Linked DNA regions of Homo sapiens: region 2 is linked to region 1. Evidence: fine-mapped expression QTL. A gene starts in region 1. The other region holds a variant in brackets. All regions are shown on one strand. Distances are between the middles of the regions.

Region 1 (5,370 bases):
CATCCTTCAGAGCCTTCCCAGGGGAAAGGGACTCAGGCTTCAGCCCAGGGTAGGGGCACTCTCCCGGCTCTCTGAAGATGCCCTCGCAAGCCACATCACCGTTTGCAGAGACGCAGTCTTGTGTCACTGGCTTGGGGGCTGGTTCCACTCTGCTCCCACCAGGGAACTGAGTGCCCTCTGAGGCTAGGGGCTCTGTGGATCTCGTCCCCTGCCACACTCCCAGCACCCGGCACAGTGCCCAACAGTCAACCCCCAGCAATGTCACATCCTCTGCAGGCCAGGCAGGGCTTCAGTGGGGACCGAGGCAAGGAACCCCACAGAGCAATTCCACCATGCACCCTAATAATTAAGGTAAGGAGGGAGGTAAGGGCTGGTCAGATGAGAGAAAAAGAGCCTGCAGCAAGGCGAGCCAGGGTGGTCCCGGGCCAGCTGAGAGTGAGCGACCCGTCAGTGAGAGAGGGCAGGGTGGGGAAAGGATTCCCAGCAGAAGGAACAGGAAGGTCAAAGACCGGGCGGGAGGCATGGGCCTGGAGTTGGAGAACAGTAAAGGGGCTGGGGAGAAATGGGCAGAGCCATAAGAAGTGAGGTGGGAGTGACTAAGGACCACAGTGAGAGCTTAGGGTTTTAAGAACAGTGAACACCCCGCTCTGCCCAGGGTACCACCCAGGGACACTCTCCCCAGTCAGAAGCCCGTCGGACTCCCTTGCTCGGACTCCAGACCACCTACAAACACCCTACTCCCATAGGCTCACAGGAATCTTCCCTGCCAGATCACACCCTTCCAAGGAAACCAAGCAGACAATCCGATCCGCCCAGGGAGTGGCCCAGCCCTGCCCAGCCCCCTGCTTCCAGGAGAGACCTAATGGCTGGCAGCGGACAATGTGGCGACCAGGGGCAGGAGCCCTGGAATCACCCAGGCCCAGCTTCGATTCTAACTCTGCCTTCAGCAGAAGCTTCTGAGCCTCATTTTTCCCGTCTGTAAAGTAGGTTCATCTTGAGCACTCACTTCACAAGATTGCAGCAGGAGTGAAATACGACCGGGCACACAGGGCGTGGAGCACAGTGTGAGCCCTCATTAAACATTAACCGACATTATGATGATTTGAGAGGCGGTCGGCCAGAGCAGGGCTCTGGGCCAGAACTCCGGAGTTAGAATCCCAGCGCACAACTTATGCATCGGGTGACCTTGTGCAAATCACTTAACCTCTTAATACCAGGTTAAGACCCCCTAAGACTATAGTGAGGACTGAATAAGCTCATACAAGTAAAGCGTTAAAAAGAGGGTCTAGCCCATAGTGTTTCATGAGTGTTTGCCATTATTATTTGTGGGAGGGTTCCCCCTTCTCCTGTCACCAGGAAGCATCTCTGACCCGGCCCCCCCCCCCCCCCCCGTCCCCCGCAATACGCCCTCCTTGGGTTTTAATTTTTGACTCTGGGAAACAGCTGCCCCGCTGTCAGATTCTCACCTTTGTACCTTCTAGGCACGCCCCAGCTTTGAACCCCTAAAAGACGCCCCCGAACCTAAAACTCATTCATCTGCTCCGCTAGGGGCAGCTTTAAACCTCCAACCTGGCGCCCCTGGGGCTGTGACCTCTGACCCTCGTGGGGGCAGCCTTCCCTCAAATTATTAACTTTGACCCTGCCTTTTTTGAGACTCGCCCAGAACCCCTCGAACGCGCCCCCACTTCGAATTTCAAACTTTGCACTCCCCTTCGCCACGCCCCCTTCGCTGGTTTGATCTCCGACCTCCACTACAACTCCCTCCAGTCTGCGTTAACCCCCGACCCCTCGGACGCGACCCTTCCCTCCACCAGTGACCTTTGACCCCGGCGGCCCCGCCCCCCTCCTCGCGGAAACGCCGTCCCGCCGCCAGCGCCCGGCCCACCGCAAGCCCCTGGCCGGACCCCTTATCCTACCGGCTCGGCGCCGCAGTCGCTCGCGGCCTAACTGCTCGACCTGGAACTCCGCGCCCTCGCGCCTCCCTCAGCTCTCTTGCACCGCCACCACCGCGGACACTCCCGCCGCCATGTTGAATCCCCAACGAACATCCGGGGCTTTCCCCCCTCACCGCCCACCAGTCCCCATAGCAACGAGGCTGACCGGGCAGTGGGCAGGGCCAGTGCGGGGGCGGAGTCGGGCGCCTCTCAGGGCCCGCTCCAGCCTCCGATTGGTACAGAGCGTCCAATCGGAGACCTTCGGGCAGAAAATGCCAAGCGGGGATTGGAAATTTTGGAAAAGGTGCGGGAAGGCTGGCTCCCGGCCCACTGAGGTCCTTAAAGGGGAAATGACTGTTTTCGTGTGATACCGATTTTCTAACTTCCCCCCCAGAAGGAGTTAGGGGCTGGGAGAAAGTAATGAGTTAATGGGCAGAAACAGTTCTTAAGCACTTACTAGGAGGCAGGCACCGGGATAAGTGTTTTACTTGCATTTTCTCGCTGCATATACAACCCTGTGGTATAATATCATTAATACCCATTTTACAGATAAAGAAACAGAGGTTCAGAGGGTGAAATAGCTGGCTTAGCATCATAGAAAGAAGGTAATGAGTTTTGAACGCTGGTCTGTCTGAGCCCGGGAACCTGAGACTGTTTGCTCTTCAATTTTTAAATAAGTTTTTACGAAGTAATTGGTCAAAATATTGAAAACAAACAGCAGACATCTTCTTTAAAAATTTTTTTAAATTTTATTTTTACTTATTTATTTGTCTTGAGATAGAGTTTCGCTCTTGTTGCCCAGGCTGGAGTGCAATGGCGCGATCTCAGCTCACTGCAACCTCCGCCTCCCGGGTTCAAGAGATTCTCCTGCCTCAGCCTCCTGAGTAGCTGGAATTACAGGCGTCCACCACCACACCCAGCTAATTTTTTGTATTTTTAGTAGAGACAGCGTTTCACCATGTTGGCCAGGTCGAACTCCTGACCTCAGGTGATCTATCCGCCTCGGCCTCCCAGAGTGCTGGGATTACACGTGTGAGCCACCAAGCTGGCCTTTTTCTTTTATTTTTAAAGAGAGAGTTTTGTTGTGTTGGCCAGGCTGGTCTCGAACTCCTGGGCTCAAACTATACTCCTGCCTCGGCCTCCCAAAGTGCTGGGATTGCAGGCGTGAGCCACTGCGCCCGGCCAGACATCTCTCCTCCTGGATCTTATTCACTGGACTCCAGCCTTCATGCTGTTCCTGAACTCTTGTCAGGTGCGCTCTCACCTCACAGTCTTTGCACTGGTTGTTCCTCTGCCTGGAACATACTCTTCCCCCAGGTATCCTTATCTCTCCCTCCCTTTTTTCAGGGCTTTACACAGATGTCACTTTCTCTGTGAACTAATTCCCTCGCTCACCCTAAGGAAAGCAGCAAACATCCCTCTCACATACTACCAAACTCTGTCTGCTTTGTTCTTATTTCTCACTCCTAATTGTAGTTATTGCTTGTTGGTTGTCTCCTCTGCTGGAATGTCAGCCCCATGACAACATGGATTTCTGTCTTTGTTCACTGCTGCATTCCCAGTGCCCCAGCACTGTTGGCATGTAGATGCTCAGTAAACATTGGTGGAAGGGCTGTTTGAATGCGTGGTAATTCCACCCCTTCAGAGATACTCTTAAATGTTTGGTGCTTCTCCTCTGCCCCAGAACAGCCACATAGTAGGCATTTAATTAATTTCTACTAATGTCGGTGGCAACAATGAATGAATGATTGAATGATGAGTTAATTTTTCTTTATGTTTACCTATCTTTTTTCTTTTTATTTGTTCATTCGTTTTTTTTTTTGTTTGTTTTGTTTTTTGTTTTTTTTTTTTTTTTTAGATAGGGGTCTTACTCTGTCGCCCAGGCGGGATTGCAGTCTGAAACTCCTGGGCTCAAGTGATCCTTCCAACCTAGCCTCTCAAGTAGCTGGGACTATAGGCATAAGCCACCACACCGGCTAATTTTCTTTCTTTCTTTCTTTTTCTTTCTTTCTTTCTCTTTCTTTCCTTCCTTCCTTCCTTCCTTCTTTCTTTCCTCTTTCTTTCGACAGAATCTCACTTTGTCACCCAGGCTGGAGTGTAGTAGCATGATCTTGGCTCACTGCAACCTCCGCCTCCAGAGTTCAAACGACTCCTGGGCGCCTACCACCATGCCCGGCTAATTTTTGTATTTTTAGTAGAGACGGGGCTTCCCCATGTTGGCCAGGATGGTCTCGAACTCCTGGTCTCAAGTGATCTGTCCGCCTTGGCCTTCCAAAGTGTTGGATTACAGGCATGAGCCACTGCACCTGGCTTGGCTAATTTTCTTAATTTTTAGTAGAGACGGGGTCTCGCTGTGTTGCCCAGGCTGGTCTTGAACTCCTGGCCTCAAACAATCCTCTCACCTTAGCCTCCCAAAGTGCTGGGATTGCAGGTGTGAGCCACCATGACTGACCCCTTTTTTCTTTTGACAGAATTGGAAACATACGTTTGTAAAGAATGTTGTGTCTTTTTTTTTTTTTTTGAGACGGAATTTTGCTCTCATTGCCCACGCTGGAGTACAATGGCATGATCTCAGCTCACTGCAACTTTTGCTTCCCGGGCTCAAGCGATTCTCCCTCCTCAGCCTCCCCAGTAGCTGAGATTACAGGCATGTGCCACCACGCCCAACTAATTTTGTATTTTCAGTTGAGACGGGGTTTCTCCATGTTGGTCAGGCTGGTCTCGAACTCCTGACCTCAGGTGATCCGCCCCGCCTTGGCCTCCCAAAGTGTTTGAATTATAGGCGTGAGCCACCACACCCAGCCTAGAATGTTGTCTTTTAAACCACAAGATTGTAAATATCACCAGTGTCTTTCCATGTCATTAAATATTCTTCAAGAAGATTAGTTTTAATGGCTGCATAAGATGCCATCCTATCAATGAACTCGAATTTGTTTAATCACTGTCCTTTTGAACATCTATGCTGTAGTACCTTGCCATTATAAATAATCCCCCTCCCTGTCATGCAAAATCCAAGCAGCTAAATATTTGTGACCATCTCTAATTATTTCCTTGTGCCTGTCTCTAATTATTGTTCCTACTACAAATGAAACTTCTGGGTCAAGGAGAAGGTGTATCTTTAAGAATTAAGAATAGTAACAGTGGCCGGGTGTGGTGGCTTCCGCCTGGAATCTCAGCACTTTGGTAGGCCGAGGCAGGCGGATCACTTGAGGTCAGGATTTCGAGACCAGCCTGGCCAACGTGGTGAAACCCCCGTTTCTACTAAGAATACAAAAAATTAGCCGGGCATGGTGGTGCACATCTGTAATCCCAGCTACTCAGGAGGCTGAGGCAGGAAAATCGCTTGAACCTGGGAGTCGGAGGTTGCAGTGAGCCGAGGTGGCAGAGGTGGCATCACTGCACTCCACCCTGGGTGACAGAGTGAGTGAGACTCTCA
Region 2 (5,370 bases), 250 kb before region 1:
GCCTCCCAAAGTGCTGGGATTACAGGCGTAAGCCACCTGTGCCTGGTCATATATATATATATTTTTTAGAGATGGAATTTCACTCTTGTGGCCTAGCCTGGAGTGCAGTGGCACAATCTCGGCTCACTGCAACCTCTGCCTCCCGGGTTCAAGCAATTCTCCTGCCTCAGCCTCCTGAGTAGCTGGCATTACAGGCACCCACCACCACGCCTGGCTAATTTTGTATTTTTTTAGTAGAGACGGGGGTTTCTCCATGTTGCTTAGGCTGGTCTTGAACTCCCGACCTCAGGTGATCCGCCTGCCTTGGCCTCCCAAAGTGCTGAGATTACAGGTGTGAGCCACCATGCCTGGCCTCCAACTTGATTTTTAACCACTCCCAAGACAGGGCAGGTTCCCATGAGCTCCCAGACCTTTATCTGTGCTTTTTCCTCTGCCTCGCTCACCTCGCCAACTCTTCTCCATCAGCCACTTCTCCCTTCATGCCTCGGTCATGTACCCCTCTGCTGCTGCCTCAGGCCTGGCGCTTGCTGCCCTCCTCACTAGCCTCCCTCTTGCTTGCTGCCCTCCTCACTAGCCTCCCTCTTGCACTGGACTGTGGGTCCATGGAGAATGGCAGCCCAGTCCAATTACTTCTGCAATCCCATGATCAGGCACAGGGCATGACACACAGAAGTCCTTCCAACGAAGTTTCATAAAGGACAAAAGGGTGCTAAGAGGGCCTCTGAGCTCCACCTATGGCATCCAGAAGTACCCCAAGTCAGCCTAGACAAAAAGAAATGAAACAAAGCCAACGAGCCTCACCCTGGGTAGGTGAGGACATCAAGGCCCAGGGAGCTGAAGCCCTTTGCCCCAGTTCCCACGGGAGTTGACAGGCTGAGACAGAGCCCAAGCCTTGTTTCTGATGGAAAGGCTGGGGTTCCTGCCAGTGCTACAGTGACACCCAGCCCAGGAAGGAGGGCTAGCCTGGTGCAGGCCCCAGAGCATCTTCCCTCAGCTGTGACAATACTAATGCTCCTGGCTAGGAAGTCACCTAAGGGACAGGGCAAGGCAGTGGCCCACCCTTAATACCAGTTTCTGCCCTACCCCAGAGTGTCCAGGGTCCTCTTCCCAGGAGTTCTTCAGCCTCTAGACTCCCTCAGCCCTGGCTTCTGTCCCCACTCAGCACTCTTGGGGAACATGGCACACTCTGGGCCCTGGGGGACTGGGGAATCCTCAAGACAGGCCTTTTTGCCTGTTTTGGTGTCTCTGGCCTCCTTCTTTCTCCCTTCTCAGCCAAGAAGTAGGCAGGAGAGGCTGAGAGGCAGGAAATTACCCTGACTGGAATGATCGTGCAGTTCCTGAGGAGCCCTGCTTGGCTCCGCACTGGGGTGGAGGCTGGCCACAGCATGAGAATGACAAAAACAAGAATGCCGGCCAGAGATCCAGGGCCTTGCACTCTCCAAGAAATCCTGATCTGTTCTTGGCAGCACCCCAAACCCAAGCTGCCTGCCCTCAAAGGCCAATCCTTGCTCCCCACTCAAAAATATTTTAATGATTTCCTGTTTCCTGCAACTGCCTGGAATCCAAAAGCTTCTCCTGTCCTTCAACGCCCCCCAGAATGTAGCCTTCACACACTGAGGTCTGAGGGTAAAGACAGGCCTGAGTTCAAATCCTGACTCTGACTCTGTCGCCTCTGTGTGATCTTGGGCAAGTCACTTCATTCACCTCTCTGCCTCCATTTCTGCATGAAGTCCTTAGCAGAGGGATAGGCACACGGTAAGCACAAGTCTCTGCTACTGTTATTACTCATTCGAATCCACCCCAGCCAGATCTGTCTGTATACTGTCCCCTCTAATTATCCACCCCGTGCTTATTTCATGCTGTGCCTTCTACTTGGAATGCCCAATTCCTTTTCCTCTTTTGGTCCAAACCCCTATCAACATTGTTCAATCTTCATCCTTTAATGGCTGCTGGGGTACCCATGATGGGGAGCACAAAAGGTATGAAGACAAAGAAATTTATAGGCACCCTGCCTGGGTGACCCCTCCCCTTGGTGAGGGATGAGCATCTCCAGGAGAGGTACTTTTTGGTGGAGGTAGTGTAGCATAGTAGTTCAGAGTATGAAGTCTATAGTCAGAATGCCTGGCTTTAAACCTTGAGTTTATATGTATAAAGTTCTTAGAATAGCTCCTAGTAAAGACTAAGCACTCGATGTGTGTTTTTGTTTTTTTTTTTTTGAGATGGGGTCTCGCTCTGTTGCCCTGGCTGGAATGCAATGGCAAGATCTCGGCTCACTGCCACCTCCACCTCCTGGGTTCAAGCGACCTTCCTGCCTCAGCCCCCCGAGTAACTGGAATTATAGGCATGCACCACCATACCCAGCTAATTTTTATATTTTTAGTAGAGATGAGGTTTCACCATGTTGGTCAGGCTGGTCTCGAACTCCTGACCTCAGGTGATCTGCCTGCCTCGGCCTCCCAAAGTGCTGGGATTACAGGCGTGAGCCACCATGCCCGGACTAGCACTCAATATTTTTTGCCTAGAATGATCATTATTAATACATCCTCCCATCCTGGAACTGTGATGCTCCATGACTGGAAAATGAGGTCCAAGACACCTCAGGTTGCTAAGTTTCCTGAAACTGCCCTTCTATCCCTCTATCTTCCCAGGTTCTCACCAGCAACTGGGAGGGAGGCAGATGGACCAGAATAGCCACACTAACTGGGGGAAAAACAGGCTCAAGGAATAACTGATGAGCACCAGGTACCAGACAGCGGGGCATTAGGGACCCGAGGTTACCCCCACCCACTGACACATGTGACATTTCACTGTCACTCTCTCTTGTCTTGCTTTAAACCAGTGCCTGCTGAAGGTGACTAGCTACTCTGAGGTTTACATCATGAACCCTCTCCCTCACCCTGGGTCAGGTCATGCTGCCTTACCATGGCTTGGAAAATCCACCCTCCCTTATCCTGTGCATTTCAAAAAGTCACTGGGATACCAACAACTTCTGCTCACTCCCGCCTGCAGGGCTTTTACTAAGAGAGCTCTTTCAAACCTGCTTAGTTGGCAGGACAGTGTAGTGGTCAGAGGCAGGCTCTGCCATCAGACTGGTTGGGTCTGTTCCACCACTTGTTCTACGTGTGACTTTGAACACATCACTTCACCTCTGAGTCCCGATGTCCTCATCTGTTGAATAGGGCTAATGATA[C/T]GGTTGTGATGCGGACTGAGATCATACCTGAAAAGTGTCTATAAAAGAGTACCTAGCATAGTCAATGCTGAAAAATGCTACCTACTATTACAAATACCTTGCAGCATGAGTTTTGTCTTATACAGACAGTGTTCTCAGAAACAAAGCTGTAAAGTGAGGCCAGATACATAAAATCCATAATGTTGTCTGAACTGGAAGGGATCTCAGATGATGGTATGCACACCTCCATCAAGCGTCATAGCCTGATGCCCTTAGAGGCCAGGTATATATCAGAAATGCCCAAAGGGGGGTTGGTGGGAGCAGAGGCAGACTAGGGCACTTGTGCAGGGTCTAAAGGGCATGCTCAACATTAAGCTCTATATTATTGCTGCCACTAGGAAAACAGATCTTGTTGAGTTGCTAGATCTTTTGACTTCTCAAGAAAGGCTGGAAATCTCATTTTTAGGGAAAAATTCTTGATTCTTTGTACCACTCACATTTATTTAAAAACCCAACACAACAAAATAAAACCAAACCAAAGTATGGGTTCAATAAGACATGTCTGTAGGTCAGATTCAGCTCTGGGAAAGCCAGTTCACAGCCTCTGCATTGCCTCATAAAGTTGAGGCCTACAGCTTATGTGACTTGTCTAATGCCACAGAGCGAGAGAGCTCTCACTGAGCCTAGTCCAACCTTTTTCAAGTAGGCATGGCCTTCTGGGACACCCCCGCCACTTACCTGTGTTTGCATTGCTCCCAATACTGTTGATGGCTGGCGGCACTGAGCTGGATGGGTGGAAGGGCACGTGTCCATTTTCCCGGGGTGGCTTGTCCTGCCAGCCTGGCCCTGCCTCCCCAGGGCCTAGCTCTGCAGGGCCCCCCCACTCATCTGAGCCTTGACGTGAATGGTAGGAGGGCTCTGGCCGGGAGCGGAAGCCACTAGCCAACCGCTCTTCCAGGTGGCTCAGCCAGAGGGCCAGTGCGTTGCGGTCCTCCAGTGTGGTGGCTGGGTGGATGAGGGCATAGGAAAGCAGCTGGCGACTCTCCTCGATGAAAGCATTGCTCTCGATTGAGTAGGCCAGCACTTTCTGCAGTAGCCTCATGTACTCCGACTTGGCCTCTGTGTTGCCTGGCTGAAGCAGGGGAAGGTGGGACAGCAGGAGGGACACCACCTTCTCTTTGGACTCCTGCTGCCACTGGCTGACGATGGCTACAGAAGGGATAAGAAGAAATATCAGGAGAGCCAGGGTGGGGTACTCCTATTCACCTGAGAGCACTGCCTATGGCCTATTCCCTCAGCTCCAATCTTCTTTTCATAACGATTTTCTTTTCATAACTCCCAAACTTATCCCTCATATAGGTGAGATCAAACACACTGACCCTGCCTCTGGAGTAATTTTTGTCTTATTTTTTTTAAGAGATGGGGTCTCACTATGTTGCCCAGGCTGCAGTGCAGTGGCTATTCACAAGTGCAATCCCACTATTGATCAGCACGGGAGTTTTGACCTGCTCCATTTCCAAACTGGGCCAGTTCACCCCTCCTTAGGCAACCTGGTGGTCCCCCACTCCTAGGAGGTCACCATACTGGGGCCACACTTAGTGCAGACACCCAATCAGCATAGCACACTATAGCCCAGAACTCCTGGACTCAGGCAATCCTCTTGCCTCAGCCTCCCAAGTAGCTGGTACTACAGTCATGTGCCCACCACAGCTGGTGTAGAGTAATTTTTCTTTGTTCTATCACTCCTGTTCTCAGAAACCTGCAGTGCCTCCCAATCAGCCAAACTTGCTACTCTGGAATCTGAACAACTCCTGTCCCCAGGCCTGCTCTCATGCTTTATCTCCATGACTCCTTCCTCCATTCTTCATGGCCTCTATGCCATTTCCCCTGCCAAAAAGCAGTCTCCTTCCTGAATGGAGAAGGCAGTGGTATATGGTAGTTAAAAGCTTGGGCTCTGGAATCAGATGGTCTAGACACCCCAGCTTACTAGCTAGATCTTGGTAAGCTACCTTGAACCTCATGGAGCACTAAATTATCTGCGAAATTTTGGAGATAATTACAGTACCCAATTCACAGTGTTGCTTTGAGATTCAATGAGCTAGCAAAGAACACAAAGTGGTTTGGCGACATAATAAATGCTTGCTATTGTTTTTTAACTGGTCTCTCTGCTTCTAGATTCTCCCCTTCCAATCGATCCCATA

Evidence for each region. PIP is the estimated chance that this variant, and not a neighbour inherited with it, causes the effect.
Region 2: its variant is the best candidate, but not a certain one, in a credible set for the expression of PAK4 in testis (GTEx, PIP 0.88).

Annotation. Positions count from the first base shown.
Region 1 is chr19:39,122,466-39,127,835 of GRCh38, reverse strand. It overlaps PAK4 (p21 (RAC1) activated kinase 4), which reads right to left and starts at 2,050. Exons shown (of 10, transcript NM_005884.5): 1 at 1,917-2,050.
Region 2 is chr19:39,368,663-39,374,032 of GRCh38, reverse strand. It overlaps SAMD4B (sterile alpha motif domain containing 4B), which reads right to left. Exons shown (of 14, transcript NM_001384574.2): 4 at 3,908-4,378. It also overlaps the pseudogene RN7SL566P. Among named protein-coding and RNA genes, the nearest start is that of PAF1, 20 kb to the left of the region's middle. The variant C/T (reference allele first, on the strand shown) is at 3,191.